Linked DNA regions of Homo sapiens. The protein of the gene in region 2 interacts with the protein of the main gene of each other region in a pairwise test. Each region holds a gene or a part of one and is shown on either strand. Other genes may lie near its edges. The genes, in order: PPP6C, PPP6R2 and ANKRD28.

Region 1 (7,110 bases), on a different chromosome or scaffold from region 2:
TGCATTGTACTTGACTTGTATTTGTTTCTTTTTTTTTCTTAAAAAAATTTTTAATCTTTTTTTTGGTGGGGGAGCGGGGACATGGTCTCACTCTCACCCATGCTGTAGTGTGGTGGCACAATCATGGCTCATTGCAGCCTCGACCTCCTGGGCTCAGGCAGTCCTCCCACCTTAGCCTCCTGAGAAGCTGGGACCACAGGCACATGCCCCCATGACCAGCTAATTTTTATTTATTTTTTTGGTAGAGACAGGGTCTTGCTATGTTACCCAGGCCAGTCTTGAACTCCTGGGCTCAAGCGATCCTCCCACCTTGGCTTCCCAAAATGCTGGGATAACAGGCATGAGCCACTATACTTGGCCTGTATCCATTTCTTAATAAACTTAAAAATATATGTTTTGGGCAACCAAGACAAAAGTATTCTGAATTTTTCTTTATAGGTAGAGACTTTTTTTTCTGTCTTGGAAATGCTTTTATCAGATTAATTTGTTGTGTTGCTCATCTCTGGTGTATTTAAAGAAATTTAATTTTTTTCTGTTTCTTGGCATGAAGTGCAACCTAAAATTAGGCCAAGAAAGTATGCCAGGAGTACTTTTTCTGAGGCTGTAAAGGCAAAATAAAACATTCTATTAAGAAAAGTAATCATTGAGGCCACTTAATGAGCAAGATGGAAAAGATTTGTTCTGTAGAAAAGAAGACAGAAATTTACTTGTGTTTTAAATTGATTAGAAGATAAAATACTAAATGCATACGATGTTCCAGATTTAATCACAATTTCTGTTTCGCTAAGTTGGAAATGGTCACATCACTAGTACTGGATCAAATCTACATAACTGTTTTTGTTTGTTTGTTCGCTCTTGTTGCTCAGGGTGGAGTGCAATGGCGTGAGCTTGGCTCACTGCAACCTCTGCCTCCCGGGTTCAAGCGATTCTCCTGCCTCAGCCTTCCTGAGTAGCTGTGATTACAGGCATGTGCCACCACGCCCAGTTAATTTTGTATTTTTAGTAGAGACCAGGTTTCCCCATGTTGTTCAGGCTGGTCTCGAACTCCTCACCTCAGATGATGCACCCACCTCGGCCTCCCAAAGTGCTGGGATTATAGGTGTGAGCCTGGCCTGTTAGTTTGTTTTTTTGAGACGGAGTCTTGCTCTGTTGCCCAGGCTAGAGTGCAGGTGCACGTTCTCAGCTCACTGCAACCTCCGCCTCCCGGATTCAAGCGATTCTCCTGCCTCAGCCTCCTGAGTAGCTGGGATTACAGGCACCCACCACCACTCCTGGCTAATTTTTGTATTTTTAGTAGAGATGGGGTTTCACCATGTTGGCCAGGCTGGTCTCAAACTCCTGACCTCAGGTGATCCACCCTTCTCAGCCTCCCAAAGTGCTGGGATTACAGGCGTGAGCCACCATGCCTGGCATACATAACAGTTTTGAAGGAATAAGAATGACATATGTGGGCCGGGAGGCTGAGGCAGGAGAATTGCTTGAGCCTGGGAGATGGAGGTTGCAGTGAGCCGAGATCATGCCACTGCACTCCAGCCTGGCCAACAGAGCGAGACCCTGTCTCAAAAAAAAAAAAAAATGACATATGTGAAAGTAAATGGACCACAGTGTAACCTTTCTTATAAAGAGCTCATGTGATTTTATCCACAAGAAAGATTTCAGAGAGATTAATAAAAGATACAGATTCCATACCTGGCTAAATGGAAGAATTAATGATAAAGGCAGGTTTACTGAATACTTATATTTAAGTATTAATATTTTTGGGGAGCAGGGGTTCTATAACTTGGAGGTTGTCTAATCTCTTGGACAGTTCTTAAGGGTGACATGTTTACCTGAGGTTTTTTTTTTTTTTTTTTTTTTGAGACTGAATCTAACTCTATTGCCCAGGCTGGAGTACAGTGGTACCATCTCAGCTCACTGCAGTCTCCACCTCCTGGGTTCAAGCAGTTCTGCCTCAGCTGGGATTACAGGTGCGCACTACCACACCCAGCTAATTTTTGTATATATATATTTTTTGGTAGAGATGGGGTTTCACCATGTTGGCCAGGCTGGTCTCGAACTTCTGGCCTCAGGTGATCCGCCCACCTCGGCCTCCCAAAGTGTTGGGATTACAGATGTGAGCCACTGTGTTTGGCCATTCCTTATTTGTGTTTTCCACAATTTTAGAACACTGCCCTGTATGTGATAATCAGTAAAGGTTTATTGACTCAAACTGTTTACTGCTTTATGACAAATACTTGTTTCTTCTTCTTCTTTTTTTTTTTTTCTTTGAGGTAGGGTCTCAGTCTGCTGCCCAGGGTGGAGTGCAGTGGTGCAGTTGTAGCTTGCTGCAACCTCAAACTCCTGGGCTCAATTGATCCTTCTGCCTCAGCCTCAAAAGTAGCTGGGAGTACAGGTGTGCAATAGTGTGCCCAGCTGATTAATTATTATTTTTATTTTTGAGATGGAGTCTCACTCTGTCACCAGGCTGGAGTGTAATGGCGCGATCTCGGCTCACTGCAACCTCTGCCTCCTGGGTTCAAACAATTCTCCTGCCTCAGCCTCCCAAGTAGCTGGGACTACAGATGCATGCCACCATGCCTGGCTAGTTTTTTGGTATTTTTGGTAAAGATGGGGTTTCACTGTGTTTGCCAGGATGGTCTCAATCTCCTGACCTCGTGATCCACCCGCCTTGGCCTCCCAAAGTGCAGGGATTATAGGCGTTAGCCACCGCGCCTGGCAAAAAAAAAATTTTTTTAAGGGATAGCGTCTTGCTATGCTGTCCAGGCTGGTCCCAAATGCTTCAGGTGATTCTCCTGCCTTGGCCTCCCAAAATGCTGAGATTATAGGTGTGAGCCACTGTGCCCAGCCAACAAACACTTATTTACATGGTTCCTTGTGTTGAGTACTGTTCCCTGTGGGTGCCAGGGGCAGAATTGGATACTTGTGTCTGCCTTTGAGGGGCTTTCAATATAGTAAGGGAGGTAAGGAGGTAAACAAAGACTGTAATAGAGGCTGACCAGGGTGTTGGCAAACAGAAGAAGCAGTATGTAACTTTAGAGTCAGAGATGATTTCATAAAGGAGCAGTTACGAGGGGCAGAGTTCAGGTAGACAAAATGAGAAGGAAAGAACATGCAAACAGAATAAACACCATGTGCAATAGTATAATGTAATTTGCAAGAACATGGCTGGTTCGGGGAACTTGAAGTGGTTTGGTATGGCTGGAGGTGGTACTGGAAAGAAAGATGCCAAATCATAGAAGAGTAGGCTGTTAAACTTAGATTGTTATTTTTTAGGTGGTGCATGAACACTATGAAATGTTTTTATATTTTAGGGAAAAATCATACTGTGATTCGTGATACTGTTTAAAATGTAGCTAACTAAAAATAAAAGTAGATTCAAAGAAAATTATTACAGGGATACACTGTTGTATGTGGTAGGAATATGACAAAATAATGAAAATGGTATTTGGTGTTTGGGAAACACTGCCATAAATGGAGGAATACGCTTGAGGAGTTTTTAAGAAGGAGAATGACAGTAGGCTTTTGAAATGTTTATTCTGGCAGCATTGTGGACCATGGATTGGAATGCAGGAAAAATGTCATAGAAGCAGTAGGCCCGGTGATATGAGAGTCTGAGATAAGGCAATGATAAGTGATTGTTGTGTTGGAAAGGAAATGAAGAAGGTATAGTGGCACCTGTTAACAGATTTGGTCTAGGTTATGATGAAGAGAGTTTAGCATAATTTTTTAGTTTCTGGCAAGGATTACTTAGTACTATAACTAGATTAAGGAATACGGGAAGTTTGGTTTGGGCCATATTGAGTTTGAGATGCTGCCAAGCTAAGACATTGAGATAGAGGTGTCCAGAATTACTCTTGGATACTTATGTTACTTAGATAACAACTACTTGTTGATTGCCAAATGTGCTCTAAACACTGTTCTAATAGTATTAAACGCAGGAGAAAGATCTAGACCAGTCGTTCTCAACTGGGGGCAATTTTGCCCCCCAAAGAATTTTTGGCAGTGTCTGGAGACATTTTTGGTTGTCACAGCTGGGTCAGGGGAGGGGTGGGAAGTTACTATGGGTATCTAGTAGGCGTAGATGTCGGAGATTTTGCTAAACATCCACAAGACAGCAAGCAGTCCCCTGCAATGAATAATTAGTAGTGCCATGGTTGAGAAACTCTGATCTGGCCTGAGGATACAGATACTACCTTCTGGATCATAAGCGTGTGAATATCATGGTCATTCCAGATTTCTAACTTCTCATTCCCAGTGATCTGTATTATAGTAGAGACTTTATATAAAGACTGTGTGAAATATAATGTTAGCTAGATATTTATTTAGTTAGTTACTTAGCTAGCTAGTTGAGATGAGGTTTTGCTATGTTGCCCAAGCTAGTCTTGAGCTCTGGGCCTCCAGCCATCTTCTTGCCTTGGCCTCCCAAAATGCTCATTTTACAGGTGTGAGCCACCACACCTGGCAGTGAGATCTTTTTTTTTAAAGCTAAGAGTGTTTTATAAATACCAGTATGTAAAAGTAGATAAAGGAAGTAGTATGTTTTAGATAACAAGATCAACTAAACAAGTAATTTTAAAAGTTTAGAACCCAGTGTTTGTGAGGGCAAGAGGGAACTGGGAGACAGAACAGAGAATAGAATGGAACTGTGAACAAATGTCTTGAGGAAAAGGTAGAGAAGAGACATAGAGGTCTGCTAAGAATGATGGCTATGAACCCCTTCCTGTTCAAGGATTAGAAAGTAGTTGGGCACCAAACATATGAAAAAGAGCACTGGTCATTAAAGAAATGCAAATCAAAACCGCAATGAGATACCATCTCACGCCAGTTAGAATGGCAATCATTAAAAAGTTAGGAAACAACAGGTGCTGGAGACGATTTGGAGAAATAGGAACACTTTTACACTGTTGGTGGGAGTGCAAATTAGTTCAACTGTTGTGGAAGACAGTGTAGCGATTCCTCAAGGATCTAGAACTAGAAATGCCATTTGGCCCAGCAATCCCATTACTGGGTATATACCCAAAGGATTATAAATCATTCTACTATAAAGATGCATGCACTTGCATGTTTACTGCAGCACTATTCACAATAGCAAAGACTTGGAACTAGCTCAAATGCCCATCGATGATAGACTGGTTAAAGAAAATGTGGCACATATACACCATGGAATACTTTGCAGGGACATGGATGAAGCTGGAAACCATCATTCTCAGCAAACTAACACAGGAACAGAAAACGAAACACCGCATGTTCTCACTCGTAAGCGGGAGTTGAACAATGAGAACATATGGGCAGAGGGGAGGGGAACATCACATGCTGGGGCCTGTCAGGGGGTCCGGGGTAAAGGGAGGGATATCATTAGGAGAAATACCGATTGTAGATGATGGGTTGATGGGTGCAGGAAACCACCATGGCACGTGGATACCTAAGTAACAAACCTGCACGTTCTGCACATGTGTCCCAGAACTTAAGTATAATAAAAAATAAATAAATAGAAAACAGAACACAAAAAAAGAAAGAAAAAATATTTGGGCACGATGAGGAGAAAGGGGTATAGTTTACCCTAAATTTGGGATAAAGCTGTAAAGGGTTTGGGAGGAGAGGAGCATGTGTCTTTACTATGATGACAAGGCAGGGCTCTTTGAGGCCGCTGTGAGTGTAGTTGATTGAGTCACGTAGCGTTTATAGTGAGATTGCATAGACTTCTTATTTTTGTGTGCGCGTGATAGCGATTTGTAAGCTACTGCCAAACTAGAGATGAGAGGCAATAGCTTTGGCTTAGAGACATAGCTCTCTAAATCCTCAGTTGGGGTCAGCAGAGGTGGCAGTCGTAGGACGCAGCTGTAATTTTACTCTAGTTAGTGTGCCTGGGCCCTGGTTGAAGGCTGCTGCTAGGTAGTTTACACGTGTTCTCCAGACACTCAATCTTTCAGATTGACAGAGTTTCACAGCGATGTTCTTCAGTTTATAGTCCACTGTTATTTTCAGGCTAGCACATAGTGTATGGGGTGATAACCAGGGATGACTTCAAGTTTAGGAGGCCTTATGGACTAGGAGAACCAGTTACATGTCAGCGAAAATTCTGGCACATTGAAATATGGGAACCGGCCAGACACAGTGGCTCACGCCTGTAACCCCAGCACTTTGGGAGGCTAAGGTGGGTGTATCACCTGAGGTCAGGAGTTTGAGACCAGCCTGGCCAACATGGCGAAACCCTGTCTCTACTAAAAATACAAAAATTAACCAGGCATGGTGGCGTGTGCCGTAATCCCAGCTACTGGGGGGCTGAGGCAGGAGAATCGCTTGAACCTGGGAGGCGGAGGGTGTAGTGAGCCAAGATCACGCCATTGCACTGCAGCCTGGGTGACAAGAGCGAAACTCCATCTCAAAAAAAGAAAAAATTACAGGCCAAACTTAGAATCATTCATCAGTTCCTGGCATATTTGTTCTTTAATGCAAATAGGTTGCAAACTTTGGATGCTAATTATTATAAAAATAAATATGTATCATAGGTCTAATGGATTATTAATAGAAGTAGGATGCTGTGCAACACTGATATTTTGAAATTGACTGGAAAGACAGCCGTCTATCCACAAGGACTAACTGGATTGAGTGGTTGTGGTCAAGGTTGTGATTATTATTATTTATGAGGTAATACATAGGGCTGTGGGGTGTTGGTATGGGGATGAGGGGAGTGACTGCTAATGTGTATATGGTTTCTTTTTGGGGTGATGAAAGTGTCCTAAAATTGATTATGGTGATGGTTGCCACCACTGTGAATATAATGAAAACCATTGACTCTTACCCTTCAAAGGGATGCATTTTATGTAGGTGAATTATGTTGCAATAGTTGTTTTAAAAAATTATATTCGGGCTGGGTGTGATGCTCACACTTGTAATCCTAGCACTTTGGGAGGCTGAGGCGGGTGGATCACCTGAGGTCAGGAGCTCGAGACCAGCCTGGCCAACGTGGTGAAACCCCATCTCTACTAAAAATATAAAAATTAGCTGGGTGTGGTGGCAGGTGCCTGTAATCCCAGATACTTGGGAGGCTGAGGCAGGAGAATCGCTTGAATCTGGGAGGTGGAGGTTGCAGTGAGCCAATATCACGCC
Region 2 (7,110 bases):
ATGAGGATCGGTTAGGTACTTTTCTTTCTTTAATCAAGCACTGACTTCTAGGCTGGATTTTTTTTTTCTTTTTTTTTTTGAGATGGCGTTTCGCTCTTGTTGCCTGGGCTGGAGTGCAGTGGTGCAATCTCGGCTCACCACAACCTCCGCCTCTTGGGTTCAAGCAATTCTCCTGCTCACCCAGTCGGGTGAGCCACCACACCCAGCCTCTAGGCTGTTTTCTTCTTGTTGTTGTTGTTGTTTAAATAGAGATGAGGTCTCACTACATTGCTCAGGCTGGTCTCAAAAACCTGGCCTCAAGTGATCCTCCTACCTCAGCCTCCTAAAGTGCTGTGGTTACAGGAGTGAGCCACCATGCCTGGCCTACACTTTTTTTTCTTAACTGAAAAATAATCTATGTGTATTATAAAAATAGGACAGGCGCGGTGGCTCATGCCTGTAATCCCAGCACTTGGGGAGGCTGAGGCGGGCCGATCACTTGAGGTCAGGAGTTTTGAGACCAGCCTGGCCAACGTGGCGAAACCCTGTCTCTACTAAAAATTAGCGAAGTGTGGTGTCAGGTGCCTGTAATCCCAGCCACTCAGGAAGCTGAGGCACAAGAATCACTTGAACCCAGGAAGGGGAGCTTGCAGTGAGCCGAGATCACACCACTGTGCTCCAGCCTGGGCGACAGTGAGATTCTGTCTCAACAAACAAGCAAACCAAAGAACAATTCTAATAGAATTGTATCAGTCGTCTGTGACCGAATAGCAAATTACCCTGAAATGTAGTTGCTTATGGCAAGTATTTTTACCTGTAGCAGTATCAGTTTCTGTGGATCAGGCGTCTGAATGTGGCTTAGTGGCTCTTCTGTTGAGTCTCACAAAATACAGTCATCTCAGAGCTCCACTGGGGTAGAGGCCAGCTCCATGGTCACAGATGGCTTGGCAGCATCCAGTTCCTCAGGGCTGTGGGCCGAGGCCGCCCTCAGCATTGCACCACATGGGCGTCTCCACAGGGCAGCACACAACGTGGAGCTGAGCTTTCCCCTCACTCTTAATGTATTTGGCTCTTTAGACCTGGGTGGCTGGGTCCAGCCCACACTAAAAGAGATGGGGGCTATAAAGGCATGAACTCCAGGACGGGATTGCTAGGGGCCCCCTAGGAGCCACCCACCCTGGAAGCACCTAAGGTGACAATGGGGCTCCCTGTGGTGATCCCTGTTGAGAGTTTGGGGTATATCCCAGTAGGCCTTTTCCTAGCATTACACATACCGATCTATACATACAACCACGTGTCCTTGGCAGATTGGAAAACAGTGGTGCTGACTCGTGTCTGAGGCCTTCACCGCTGCCTGGCCAACCACCCTACTTTGTTCTCCATCAGCCCACAGGGCTGATCAGACAGACAGGAGAGGCCACGTTGGCGTCTGTAGGAAACAAGGAGGCCGCCCTGCCTGATGTTGGCGTCTGTAGGAAGCAAGGAGGCCGCCCTGCCTGAGAACTGGAGCCCACCCATGCATGTGGGTGTTGTGGGCTGATGGCCTGGCCTGGGTCCCAAAGGCAGACCTGAGAGCTAATCTGGCTGCTTTCTTTTCTCCCTAAAATACTCCTGTGAGTGTTTGCTTTCCCTCAGTCTTCCCACAGCATGTGAACCAATGCTGCAGGGAGTCAGGGGTTGTTTCTCTCTTAATCACATTTGTCTTACCTACAGAACAGCCCTACATTGTCAGCAGGGGCACGTTCCCATCACGGATTGCGTGTTAATGTTTCCCTAGAAAAGATGAGTCCTCTGTTTTCTTGGTAGCAACTTCCCTATTTTCATTAGCTTACAGGACTCATTCTGAATAATAGCAGCTACTTATTACCACATTTAAAATATAGTATCAGTAACATGGCCACATATTCAGCATATTTCAAAACGTGGATCACAGGTATAGCCCAGTATCTGCATTGCATATCTGACCATTATTAGCCCTGTTTTGAATTCCTGAAGATAGTTCAATGCAGCTTTAAAAAAAAGAAAACTCTAACCAGATCTACATTTTGACGACAGAAAAGGCAGACACAGGCTTCTTTGAAATGAAGCTGTTGTCTGGAATCTTTCTTTGTAGGAAACTGGTTTAGAGAAAGTCCCACATCTTTTTCTTTTTTTTTTTGAGATGGAGTCTCGCTCTGTCACCCAGGCTGGAGTGCAGTGGTGCGATCTTGGCTCACTGCAAGCTCCTTCTCCCAGGTTCAAGCCATTCTCCTGCCCTCAGCCAACCGAGTAGCTGGGACTACAGGCACCCGCCACCACGCCCGGCTAATTTTTTGTATTTTTAGTAGAGATGGGGTTTCACCGTGTTAGCCAGGATGGTCTTGATCTCCTGACCTGATGATCTGCCTGCCTTGGCCTCCCAAAGTGCTAGGATTACAGGCCTGAGCCATTGTGCCTGGCCAAAAGTCCCACATCTTAAAAAAAAAGAAAAAGTATTTGAACATCACAGTGGTATTGAACAACAACGAAAGTCTAGCATCTGCCAGAGAAGCAGCAGGACTTGTGCCCTGTGTGCCCAGCAGGGCTGGTCCTGCTGTTTCTTCTCCACACTGAGGGACTCTGTGTTTCCCTTGTCTTTTCAGAGGCAGTCAAATGCTTCTCAGACTCTCTGTGACATAGTTAGGCTGGGCAGAGACCAGGGCAGTCAGCTGCAAGAGGCTCTGGAGCCAGACCCGCTCCTCACAGCGCTGGAGTCGTGAGTGCTGGTGGGCCGTGGTGCTGGTGGGCCTCCCTTTCTGGGTCATGGGGACGTCTGTGAGCCTTGCTCTGAGCACCAGGATATGTTGCCACCTCCTCTGATTCACATTCGAATGAACCCCAGGTTCAGAGCCCATGTTAACTTGGGGCCTGTTTCCAGAGGGAGGGGTCTCCAGAGGAGTCACCTGGTGGGTCTAGAGAGTGGGCCAGCAGCAGCAGGAGTGTCCTGAGAACCCTGGCGCCTTGCCTTGAGCCTGAGCAGGTTGAGGGTTTTGCTGGGGTCCTCCACGGGGAGGAAGGAGCATCCTTGCATCCTTTGTGTGTGTGTCTGCTCTGCCAGGCAGTGACCTCTGTGTGTGTCCAGCAGGCAGGACTGTGTGGAGCAGCTTCTGAAGAACATGTTTGATGGAGACCGGACGGAGAGCTGCCTCGTCAGTGGGACTCAGGTGTTACTCACCTTGCTGGAAACCAGGCGGGTTGGGTGAGTCTCACGAGGAGAAATCGTGTAGAGCTGAACTTGACGCCTCAGTGATATGGCAGCCCACACGAGCAGTCTGGATTATGTCATTTGTGGTTTTAATTTTTGATTATGCAAGTAACAACATGGATAGATTCCCCTTGTTGAAGGCTTGACTTTATGGCTGTGGCCAAGTCCCCTTAGACCCTCATCATCACTGGTGCTCCCTCTCCAGCCTGAAGCTGCTCGTCACGACCAGTTGGCGATGCATTTGTCGATGTGCGTGGAACAGGTGTGGTTGGCAGGTTTTCCCCAAGGACTGTTCCGACAAGTCCCCACAGCTCCCGTGTGTGTTTGTGTGTGTGTCGCAGGGTTTCCACTCTGATGCATGGTTACATATACATGTGTTTATCTCCCATGCAGACTGGCCCTCACAGGGCAGGGGTGTGACACTCACCGCTGTCTCCCGTGCCCTGTGCACCCACGGGTCGGCACCGCCTGCTGAGCGTCGTGCTGAGCACTTTTTTCCCAGGCGACTCTCCTCCATTGCCCTTTCTCATTCATCAGGTGTCATTTCTGCACCCACTGTGCACTAACACGGGCCCGAGGAGACAGAGAACTGAGACACAGCCCCTCCCCTTTAATTGCTCCCAGTCTGGCACAGGAGGCCCGTCTGTGGACAGCGAGGGTGATGCAGAGTGGCGAGTGCAGTAGACATGCACCCAGTGCCTCGGGGCTCACAAGAAGGGACCCACATGGGGCTGGTGGGTGGAGCCTCGCAGTCAGGGACATTTTCCCTGAGAGGCCGCATCTGGTCAGACACAGCTCCTTGGATGAGGCAGTGAGGGGGTCCCAGTGTGGACACAAGCATGGGGCAGTATGTGGCAGAGGAGAGTGGAGCTTGCTTGGAGGTGCTCCTTTGCTGTGACCCCACATCGCTGTCCTGAGGTGCAGCTGTCGGAGGCTGCTGAGTCACGACAGTGAATGGGCAGAGACAGAGGAGTCAGCAGCAGAAGAGTGAGTTCGGGTGAAAGTTGAGTTTGTTTGAGGATATAGGTGCTGGAGACCCTTCTCTGACCCCCAGTAGAAATTTCAGGAAGTGTTTGAAACTGTTTCTCTGGATCATAGTGTGGCCTAGTCCTTCCCTCAAGTCATAGAAGGCTGGGCACTGCCAGAGCCGTTCAAGCAGTTGAAACTCCAAAGAGGATGCCCATGAGGCGCAAATGGAAAGACAGCCGAGTGGAGTCTGTGAGGGAGGCATTGGCACAAGGGGGTGTGGTTGGCCCGCCAGGTGCCCAGGAGATCCTATAGGGTGTGTCCCAAAAGGGCCACATCAGTGTCCTCTGGGCACTTCCCCTCCTGGCCTCACCCTGGCCCTTGAACCCCATCTCTGGATTCAGGTTCCCCACATGCCGGCAGGAACCTGATGTCTCAGGACGTTTCCGTCGTCTCCGTTCCATCACAGGCTGGGACGATGTCTAACTCTCCCAAGGTGGCCGTAGCTCCCTTATTTCCACGTTCTGGGGAGAACATAATTCAGCCCCCAACACTGATAGCCTGTGCTTTTTTAAAGTGAAAGAAAAAGGAACAATGAGAAAATGATAAGAAATTGACTTAACCTTGATAGTGAGGTTGTTAGGACTCTCTTTCTCTCTCTCTCTCTCTCTCTGTCTGTCTCTGGTAGTACCTAATACATATTTGTTAGTTTATTAACCAGAAGTAGTGTTATAATGTTACCGTTTTCTCTAGTTAGGCAACTGGAATATTGATATTTTAATCTTCATAAACCCAGGAAAGCTGAGCCACTTCTGAGGCCCAAGCTTAACCCTGTATGTGATAGAGGGGACTGTGTAAAAATCAGGAAAACAGAGATAAGCCAGCTGTTTCTCTTAGATTATTGTGATTATTATTATTATTATTTTCAGACAGTGTCTTGCTCTGTCACCCACGTGGGAGTACAGCAGCACGATCATATCTCAGCGTGGCCTCAGAGTCCTGAGCTCAAGCGATCCTCCCACCTGTCCCCCCCAAAGTGCTGGGATTATAGGTGTGAGCCACTGCACCTGGCTCTCTGATTTTTAAAATTATTTTGCATATTACTTTAAAAAATATATGATTACGTATTACTTTTACAACTGGAAAGAGTGTTTAAATAAATATCTCAGAAGACTTGCTTGAAAACACCACAGGGGGTAGGCGCAGTGGCTCACGCTTGTAATCCCAGCACTTTGGGAGGCCAAGGCGGGTGGATCACCTGAGGTCAGGTGATCGAGACCAGCCTGGCCAACATGGCAAAATCCTGTCTCTACTAAAAATACAAAAAGGAGGCTGAGGCAGGAGAATCGCTTGAACCCAGGAGGTGGAGGTTGCAGTGAGCTAAGATCGCACCATCGCACTCCAGCCTGGGTGACAGAGCGAGACTCTGGCTCAAAAAAAATAAAAATAAATAAAAATAAAAGTCGACACAGGAACAGTGAAAGAGACAGGGATAGCAGTGAAGGTTTTAAAAGTGGGACAGAGCAGGACCTCTAACTGGTGCTAGGGCCAGTGAGTCCTGTGTTGTGTCACTTGCCCTGCCTCCATATTCTCGGATGTCGCAAGCAAGCATCTGCCTGAAGGTCTTTAGTACCTTTCTCTTCTGCCTGTACCAGTCACCAGATCACGTGTGGAGACGCTGGGTAGCTGCACTGCTCTAGGGTTTCTTTTTGGGAAAGTTAAAAGGGCTCTTTCTGGAAGAAGCGGGTGCACTGAGTTGCTGGTGAGGTTGGACAGGGTCCTGGTGTCCCCGGTCTCCATCTGCTTTCCTCATCCACAGGACAGAGGGCTTGGTGGACTCCTTTTCTCAGGGACTGGAAAGGTCATACGCTGTCAGCAGCAGCGTACTACACGGCATCGAGCCTCGGCTGAAGGACTTCCACCAGCTCCTGCTCAACCCGCCCAAGGTAAATGGCCGTGGCGACTGCTGAGTGCCTTTGGAGGCGTCGCAGGAGAGGTTGATTTGCAGGGAGGAGAAGCCACAGCTTGTCCCATAGGTAGCAGAGTGTGGAGTGAATGTGTTCTAAGACGGCCATTCCCACACCCCCACTTGAGAAGCACCGGGCAGGTGCCAAAACACATTTTCAGGACTGCCCCTCCCAGATCTGCAAATGCTCATCTCTGCCTCTGCAAATGACCCCGAGGTCACCATAAGCCTGGCCTCCAAGTTGGGGGCACCTAGCTAAGGGGTGCTCGGCTCCTGAGAGGGGACCAGGGGGTGGCAGGGGAGGCCCTTTGCCCTGCTCAGCAGCATGTTGAGGGGGGTGAGGCACACAAAGGCTCCTCCTGGTTCAGACTGCCAGCCAGGCAACTCCCCATCCCGTCTCACCCTCCCCAGACACAACCCGACCCCTGCTGCATAGCACCCTCCTGACCTATAGCTCAGTTCCTCTCACTCGCCACCTTGGTAAGATCCACCTGTCCCACTAGCGAGCTCTGTGGGGGCCAAGATTCTGTTTTGTCAGCTGGAGGTTTCAGTGAAGAGAAGGTAGGTGCAGTAGGCTGAGTGTGGGGGATCAGAAAAGACCGCGGTCCATCGGAGGAGGCATTCCCGTCAGTGTCCCCAAAGTGTGTTCATGGGACACTTGTTAGCTTGGTGTTCTGAGATTGTGGCCGCAGAGGGACCCCCACTGGGCATCCTCAGTGAGGCATCGTGCCAAGGGCTCTGGCCTTAGACCGGTACTGCTGGCCCCATCTTGGACATCTCACCCGCTGAGGTGCACGGCTCTCTGGCCCTGCAGGCTCAGACTGGAGTGCCCGTGAGCATCCTGGGAGCACTCTCTGAAGCCCTGAGGGGAGCAGCAGGCTCTTCACCCCATTGATGCCTTCATTTCTTCTGGCAGACGGCCCTCCCTGAGGAACCCCCACCACATACCTCGCTACCCCAGGCTGGGTCCCAGCCT
Region 3 (7,110 bases), on a different chromosome or scaffold from region 2:
ATTTATTTATAACTTCTATCCAATACTTTTTTTCAATTTCTGATATATAATATTTCCAGTTAATTGTCTTTAAAATTTTGACCTTTTTTTTTTTCAAATCATATATGGATTATTTGACCTCACCAAATAACTTTATTCACACAAATGAATTTACAAAGCCTCCGTCATTCATAAACATTAGGAGTATCCCAGTGTTCAGGGAACTTAAATACAGTGTATTATATCAACCCAAGTAAACCAAGCACAAAAAATATTCATATAAAGTTGTTTACATGTAGGTCCTAGACTACCAGCTTCTGTGTGAAAAAGGAAATAAAAATAGATTTATTAACTAGTGTTTGAAACTAACTTTGTGCCTGGCTTAAAACCTCCCTCATGCTCCAGCCTGTCCCACACAAGTGTTTAAGAAGTCATTAAAACTGTCCTGCTCTCATGAAAAGAAGCTCCTCTGCACAAAAGATGTAAGTGCCCCCAAGTAGCTCCCTTCCTCCTGTGGCCTCTCTTGGAAAACAACCTTGGCAGCCTCCTTGCTGATACCTTCTGCAATTTTAGGGGCCCCTCAGGGGGCAGTGGCAGTGGATTCATCTTTTGATGATGGCTGCAGATGCTAACATTGGCCAATTCTATGTCACACCTACTGGTTACTCTTTGAAGGCATTTCTCCAGACAGAAGCCCCACTACCGTCAAAGCTTAGGTAGGGCAGGATCAGAGAGGCGCCTGTGTTGTTTTGAAGGTTGTGCTACAGCCTGGACTTATCTCTGGACTTCTCCCTCTAAAACCCAGTGGCCCAAAGAGCTGAAAAATGTCAGCTTGGCTCTTCAAAAGTTTCCAGACCCAAGGAGATTACCAAGAGCTACAACTGTCTGGGGAAATTTTTGACTTTAAGTGGTAAAATGATTGTATTCTCAGGGAATACCAACAACAAGACTATCATCACTTAAAACATTATCTGCCTTAGAAGTTGGGTTTATGTAATAATCTAACTTCTGAAACACTTTATCAACAAAACAATGCAGTATTTATTTCTTTCTGGTAGAAGTTATTTTGGATTGGTATAATCTTTCATTTAACAAGTGATACACGTTTTGACTTATTTTACCAGTGTACTGCATTAAACATTTATGCAGACAGGCTTTACAGAGCACTTTATGCAAGAACTATTCCATATTGTGATATTATGATGTAGCAGATACGTTAAAATACGAAGGTCTATAACCAAGTCAGTTAAATGACTTGCTACCCACTGCGTATCACTGGCAGATGCAGATTCACAACTCTCTATTTTTATAGAGTGATCCTTAAGAATACATTTGAATATATGTCTTGGATTTTTTTTCTAGTCCTTTGGGAAGCTTACATTTTAGAAGACTATTGATAACACCCACTGTTACTCCCAGAGCCGCCCTTCAAAGCTATCAGATGTTCAAGTGGGGCTGAGAAAAATATTTTAATAATACATTAGAACCTCTAATAAACATATATACACTACTATATGGTTTGAACAAGAGGTTAAAATGCATTACTTGCTGTTACCTTATTCTGAAAAAGAGTGAAGTTATATATCACTTTGCAAAGCCAAACTTGGTGGCGCATGCCTGTATTCCCACCTAACTTGGGAGGCTGAGGCAAGAGGGTCACTTGAGTTCAGTTTCATTGCACTCTAGGCAACATGATGAAACCCTGTTCCTAAAATATAAAATAAAAATCAATTTTGTACACTGGATGGGATCTGTGAAAAATAAGTACATTTTAAAAATATTAATCTATAGCTAGAAAAATTATAATTGCAGATCATATGCAGAACTAATTTAAAGCTTGCATGGAGTGGTTGCACTCTCAATAGGTAAATATTGAACTGAGACATTAGCCAGTCCCTTAGAAGTAGTTAACCAATGCCATATAGTTCAGCATAAATCCTACCCACAAAAAGAACCACAGGTTACTCTTAGTGCCTATCTATTCAATAAATGCAAGCCTTGTATCTATAGATGCCTTTCAAATTTGGAGGTCTATAGAGAGCATCTATAAGCCATGAAAAGAACACTGAGGGTTTTTTTTCCTGGAGGTTTACCAGTCATTTCCCACAGAGATGCTGTGCTTGCTGTTTGGGTATTGAACTTAGATGACACAAACATTCATCAGTAGCGACTGTGAACTGAGTGTAAATGAACTGATTTGAAAAATGATGGGCCAAACAAGTTCTTCTTGAACATCCCCAAGTGTTACGACCCTGTTTTTTGTTGCTAAGCTGTGAGAGCTGCTGGCAGAGTGCAGCATACAGATTGGACTAGGGTAGGAGAGGTGATTTAAGCCACAAGTTTAATAACTATTAGTATTTAATATAACTGTGGGAACATACTGTGGAATATTCAGCACCTAGCTTGCTTTTGCTAGTTTTGTCATCTTTTAATTAGAAGAAATAGTGATAGACGTTCTTTTCTGTATCATATGCAAGATACATTTTTTTCTAATGTATTTCTTTAAACTTCAGACTTTGTATATATTAACAGGACCTGAATTTTGCAGAGGATTTAACTTACTTCAAAAGCTCTTTTCTTTGGACTACTTCTACTTGTACCCTTGCCCATTTTATGCATTTGGACTTAACACATGCATTCTTTAGATGGATCATTTTTCTTGTACTGTATGTATATATATATATATCATTTGAAATTATTTCAGCCATAAATAACAGAGTACCCTACTGAAAATAGCTTAAGGGGTTTAGTGTCTCATATACAATGTCGAAAGGCAGGCTGGGCACGGTGGCTCATGCCTGTAATCCCAGCACTTTGGGAGGCCGAGGTGGGTGGATCATGAGGTCAGGAGTTCAAGACCAGCCATGCCTAGATGGTGAAACCTCATCTCTCCTAAAAATACAAAAAAAATCGCCGGGTGTGGTGGCAGGCGCCTGTAATCCCAGCTACTTGGGAGGCTGAGGCAGAGAATTGCTTGAACCCAGGAGGCGGAAGTTGCAGTGAGCCAAGATCACACCACTACACTCCAGCCTGGGCGACAGAGCGAGATTCTGTCTCAAAAAAAAAAAAAAAGCAATATCAGGCAGATGCAGTTCCAGGGTTGGTTGATTCTACAACGGTGTCAGAGCTCTGGATTAAATTCTGTTATTCTCTTACATTTGCATTCATGTTGTGGGATTATTGCTGCTGCTTTTAAGGATTGCATCTAAAATCAGGAAGGAATGGGGGCTTTTCATTATTAAAGATAAAAGTATTTCCCAGCAGCCTCTAGACTTATCGGCATCTCAGTAGTCAGACCTGGTTCCTGTGCTGCTCACCTTAAAACTGATCACTGTCAGAGGAGAATGGGGTTCTTGTGATTGACTTGGTCTAATCATGGTATCATCCCTTTGCTGGAGTCAAGGCACTCTTCCTGACCACATTGCCAGAGAGCTAAATAAAATGAGCATTCTTTTAGAGGCAGATGATAGGGCATGGGTGCTGGGTAGGCGGTCTGCCTGTCATGTTTTACTGTGAGGAATTCACATTTATTCCAGCTTTAACAGTCAAAGGCCGTAGAAACCTTCTTTTTACCTATAGTTTTCATTCTTGCATATTAAATTCAGTGCAACTATCCCAAAAGTAAATTCTAGAAGATGTGCTTTTAGATGGACATTTTCTATTTTATCATTATATGTAATTACTGAAATGTTTAAATTTCACTTTACAGCAACAAATGGTCATTCAGAATGCTTACGGCTATTAATAGGAAATGCAGAACCACAGAATGCAGTGGATATTCAAGATGGAAATGGACAGTAAGTTTCGATAAATAATTGTTGCATCACAGAAGGGCGTATTTCGAAAACCAGAGTACAGTCTTAAGTGACAGCACTGAACCTATTCCTGTTGTTGCTCAGGACGCCTCTGATGCTATCTGTTCTCAACGGGCACACAGACTGTGTTTACTCATTGCTGAACAAAGGAGCAAATGTAGATGCCAAAGATAAGTGGGGAAGGACAGCGTTGCATAGAGGGGTAAGCAGAAATATGCTCTTTCCTTTCAAAAAGCTTTTATGACCTCATATTACCTAGAACTGAACTAGGTTATGTTTATTTTTTCTTCATTAAATGTTCGTCAAATAGTCTTTACCATTTCTTTCAGTATCTTAGTTTTTAAATGCTAATTTTGAACAATTACAGAGTACAACTTAATCTAGAGAACAATGTTAGAACAAAATTTTAAAACTCTAAAACTTTTAGTAGAATTAATGTCAATTTGACTTTTTCCATTATCTCACTTATTTTCTTATACACTTTAATCTTTTTTCACCTTTGAAATATCATTATTTTCATTGAATACCAAGTTTCTCTCTTCCTGTTTTCATACTATTTGCATTTTAGAAGGGTTCTTGCTTTAACTGAATTTTTAAACCACTTCCAATAAAAATACAGAATTACTCATAAAATGATAAATGGCTTTAATTGATGGAAGGATATGGAGAGTATGGTCTTTAAAGTTTTTAATTAGCTGAAATTGGCATGTAATGTTTAGCATAATATGTTTGACTACCTTTAAATTATTTTCTTTCAGGCAGTTACAGGCCATGAAGAATGTGTAGATGCATTACTTCAACATGGTGCTAAGTGCTTACTTCGGGATAGCAGGGGCCGGACGCCTATACACCTGTCTGCTGCCTGTGGACACATTGGTGTTCTTGGAGCCCTTTTGCAGTCAGCAGCATCTATGGATGCAAATCCAGCCACAGCAGACAATCATGGATATACGGCACTTCACTGGGCTTGCTACAATGGTTAAGTATACAAACACAAATGCATATCATTGTGTAGTGAACAGAGATAAAAGAATGACATATTTATAAGGCAAATTTTAAGTTTAAAATTAGCAAAAACCTTGGGAATAATCTACTGTATAGGCTCACGTACTAATAATACTTAGTACGTAGGCTCACTCCTGTCCTTTGTCATGCTAAAGCCAAGACACTAGTTGTCAAAGGTGTTCTGAGATAAGCCATGAAGTATTTTTGAGGTTTTTCTTTTCTTTTCTTTTCTTTTTTAGTTTTGGTAGGATCTTGCTATGTTGCCCAGGCTGGTCTTGAACTCCTGGCATCAAGTGATCCTCCCACCTCAGCCTCCCAAAGTGTTGGGATTACAGGCATGAGCCACCATGTAGCCTGAAGTTTTTCTTAGATCCTTATTTCCACAAATATTTTGCATTTTTAGGAGGTTTTTAGAATGTTTCCATTGCTTTTATATAGTGTGCTTGTATTTTGATTGTGTTCTTTTACTATTTTTTTTTTTTTAAGAGTCCCACTATGTTGCCCAGGCTGGTCTTGAACAACTGGGCTTAAGCAATCCTCCCACATCAGACTCCCCAAGTGCTAGGATTACAGGCATGAGCCATTGCACCCAGCCATGTTCTTTTACTTTCTAAATACAATCATATTAGGGGAAAAATAACCAAAAGTAGGAGAAACAGTGAGATGTATCACATTCTAAACTGAAATCTATGTATGTTTTCTGAGCACATTGCAAGATAACATTCTTATATTACCAGTAATATCCATGTTCAATGTTTTAAAGGAATAAATCCCTAGCAGGTCTTAGAATTAGAAACTTTGATGGGTTAACTCTGCTACATGGTTAAAAGAGATTTTCTTTGGCCTCCTACAGGCTCACAGTCACAGTCATCGCTTTTATAGGTAGACTCATAAAAGGTCACGTAGGGAAGCATAAAGCTACTTTGAAGTTATAGATGTTAAAAATGCAGTTTGGCTTATGAAATGCCACTAATTAAAATAATTTATGCAATGAAGCATGTTGAGATATTTTTAGATTTGATCATCTTAGAAAACTCAAGTACATTATATACAGTGCAAGCATCAGTGTTGTCAAAGTTCAAGCTTCAGGCTTTAGTAGAGAAATTAGAGGTTTTTAAAATTTGTTTTCAATTTCAGTGTAGCTTCAAGATTAATGTTAATTATGACAGCAGATCTACAAAGCTGTAGTTCACAATTCTAATAACCTTCCCTCAAAATGCAGAGAAAATATAAGTTGTCTCTTTATATAAATACCCATTTGCTAAAAATAAATAAGTATAATATCTGTTGTAAAATCAGACTGCCTTACCAGGAAGTTGAGATTTCCTATCTTTCTATAATATGCTGTTTCATAGTTCTTTCACTGGGAGCTGTTCTGACAAAGTTATCAAGTTAAAGCAAAAGAGGAAAAAGCTGAATCTTGTAAAATTATAACTTCATTAAATGTTTCCACAAGTATTTCTGAGATACAATATTTTGATTTTCATATTAGTCCTTATGCCAAAGTTGGGAGTTGTATTCTTTTGCCGTTAGAACATTTTGGGTTCTTGAGGTTTGTCCTGTTATACTGTTGGTTATCCTTCAGCTGAGTACTGATAGCACCATAAAAACTTGAATAGTTAAATCTGTTGCTCATTGAACAAGCTAGTTTAGTCTCTTTGTTTTTTACTACCTTAAATCCTTAACCAAAACAGTTTTGAAAACTATAAAACCTTTGGGGTTTAACTTCTCTTTTTCCCATTTCTACTCGCTAAGGCAAGTAGAAATGAGTGTAGTGAAGTGGCCAGAGACTAGTACTCATACTAGAACAAAGAAGATACTGTATTTTGCCATTGATGTTTGATTTGTTTCTGTAATGTGACTTGACATTTTACAAGTATAAGGAAAACCCAAAATATCTAATATAGTGGGAAAATATCTACAATTGTGAGTTGTGTTTCTGTAAAAAAGTCAGTGAGATAAAACTGTTCAGAAGCAAAGACTTACTGCTTGGTTTTTAAAAAAATATATCCCTGAAGATTAACCATTGGAAAAATCACACAGTGAGATATTTTTCCTCAGGAAGAGCATTTAGTTGTAAATGTACTGCTGTAACTGTCCTTTGGAGAGTTGCTTTCTATTACAGTGTTTGTTATCAGATCTATATGTAGAACATTTTCCCTAAAGTGAGTTCCTACTCTATCACTGCTAAATTTAGACTCTAAGCACGTTTTGTGCAAGAGACAGAATTTTGCAAGAACTGCATGCCTGGTTGCCATTTAAAGATCATAACAAATGTGTCTGATTTTCAGCCTGTAGCAAAATTGTGGTG

What was found.
Region 1: the proteins of PPP6R2 (region 2) and PPP6C interact in binary tests that used the Homo sapiens proteins (3 or more experiments, as listed by UniProt).
Region 3: the proteins of PPP6R2 (region 2) and ANKRD28 interact in binary tests that used the Homo sapiens proteins (3 or more experiments, as listed by UniProt).

Annotation. Positions count from the first base shown.
Region 1 is NC_000009.12:125,179,714-125,186,823, reverse strand, and holds part of PPP6C (serine/threonine-protein phosphatase 6 catalytic subunit), read left to right. Parts: intron 1-7,110.
Region 2 is NC_000022.11:50,416,267-50,423,376, forward strand, and holds part of PPP6R2 (serine/threonine-protein phosphatase 6 regulatory subunit 2), read left to right. Parts: intron 1-2,600; coding exon 2,601-2,713; exon of another isoform or gene 2,714-2,723; intron 2,724-3,079; coding exon of another isoform or gene 3,080-3,082; coding exon 3,083-3,196; intron 3,197-5,987; coding exon 5,988-6,114; intron 6,115-7,110. UniProt on the Homo sapiens protein: Regulatory subunit of protein phosphatase 6 (PP6). May function as a scaffolding PP6 subunit. Involved in the PP6-mediated dephosphorylation of NFKBIE opposing its degradation in response to TNF-alpha.
Region 3 is NC_000003.12:15,682,888-15,689,997, reverse strand, and holds part of ANKRD28 (serine/threonine-protein phosphatase 6 regulatory ankyrin repeat subunit A), read left to right. Parts: intron 1-109; exon of another isoform or gene 110-1,651; coding exon of another isoform or gene 1,652-1,687; intron 1,688-3,688; coding exon 3,689-3,776; intron 3,777-3,878; coding exon 3,879-3,996; intron 3,997-4,552; coding exon 4,553-4,772; intron 4,773-7,110. UniProt on the Homo sapiens protein: Regulatory subunit of protein phosphatase 6 (PP6) that may be involved in the recognition of phosphoprotein substrates. Involved in the PP6-mediated dephosphorylation of NFKBIE opposing its degradation in response to TNF-alpha.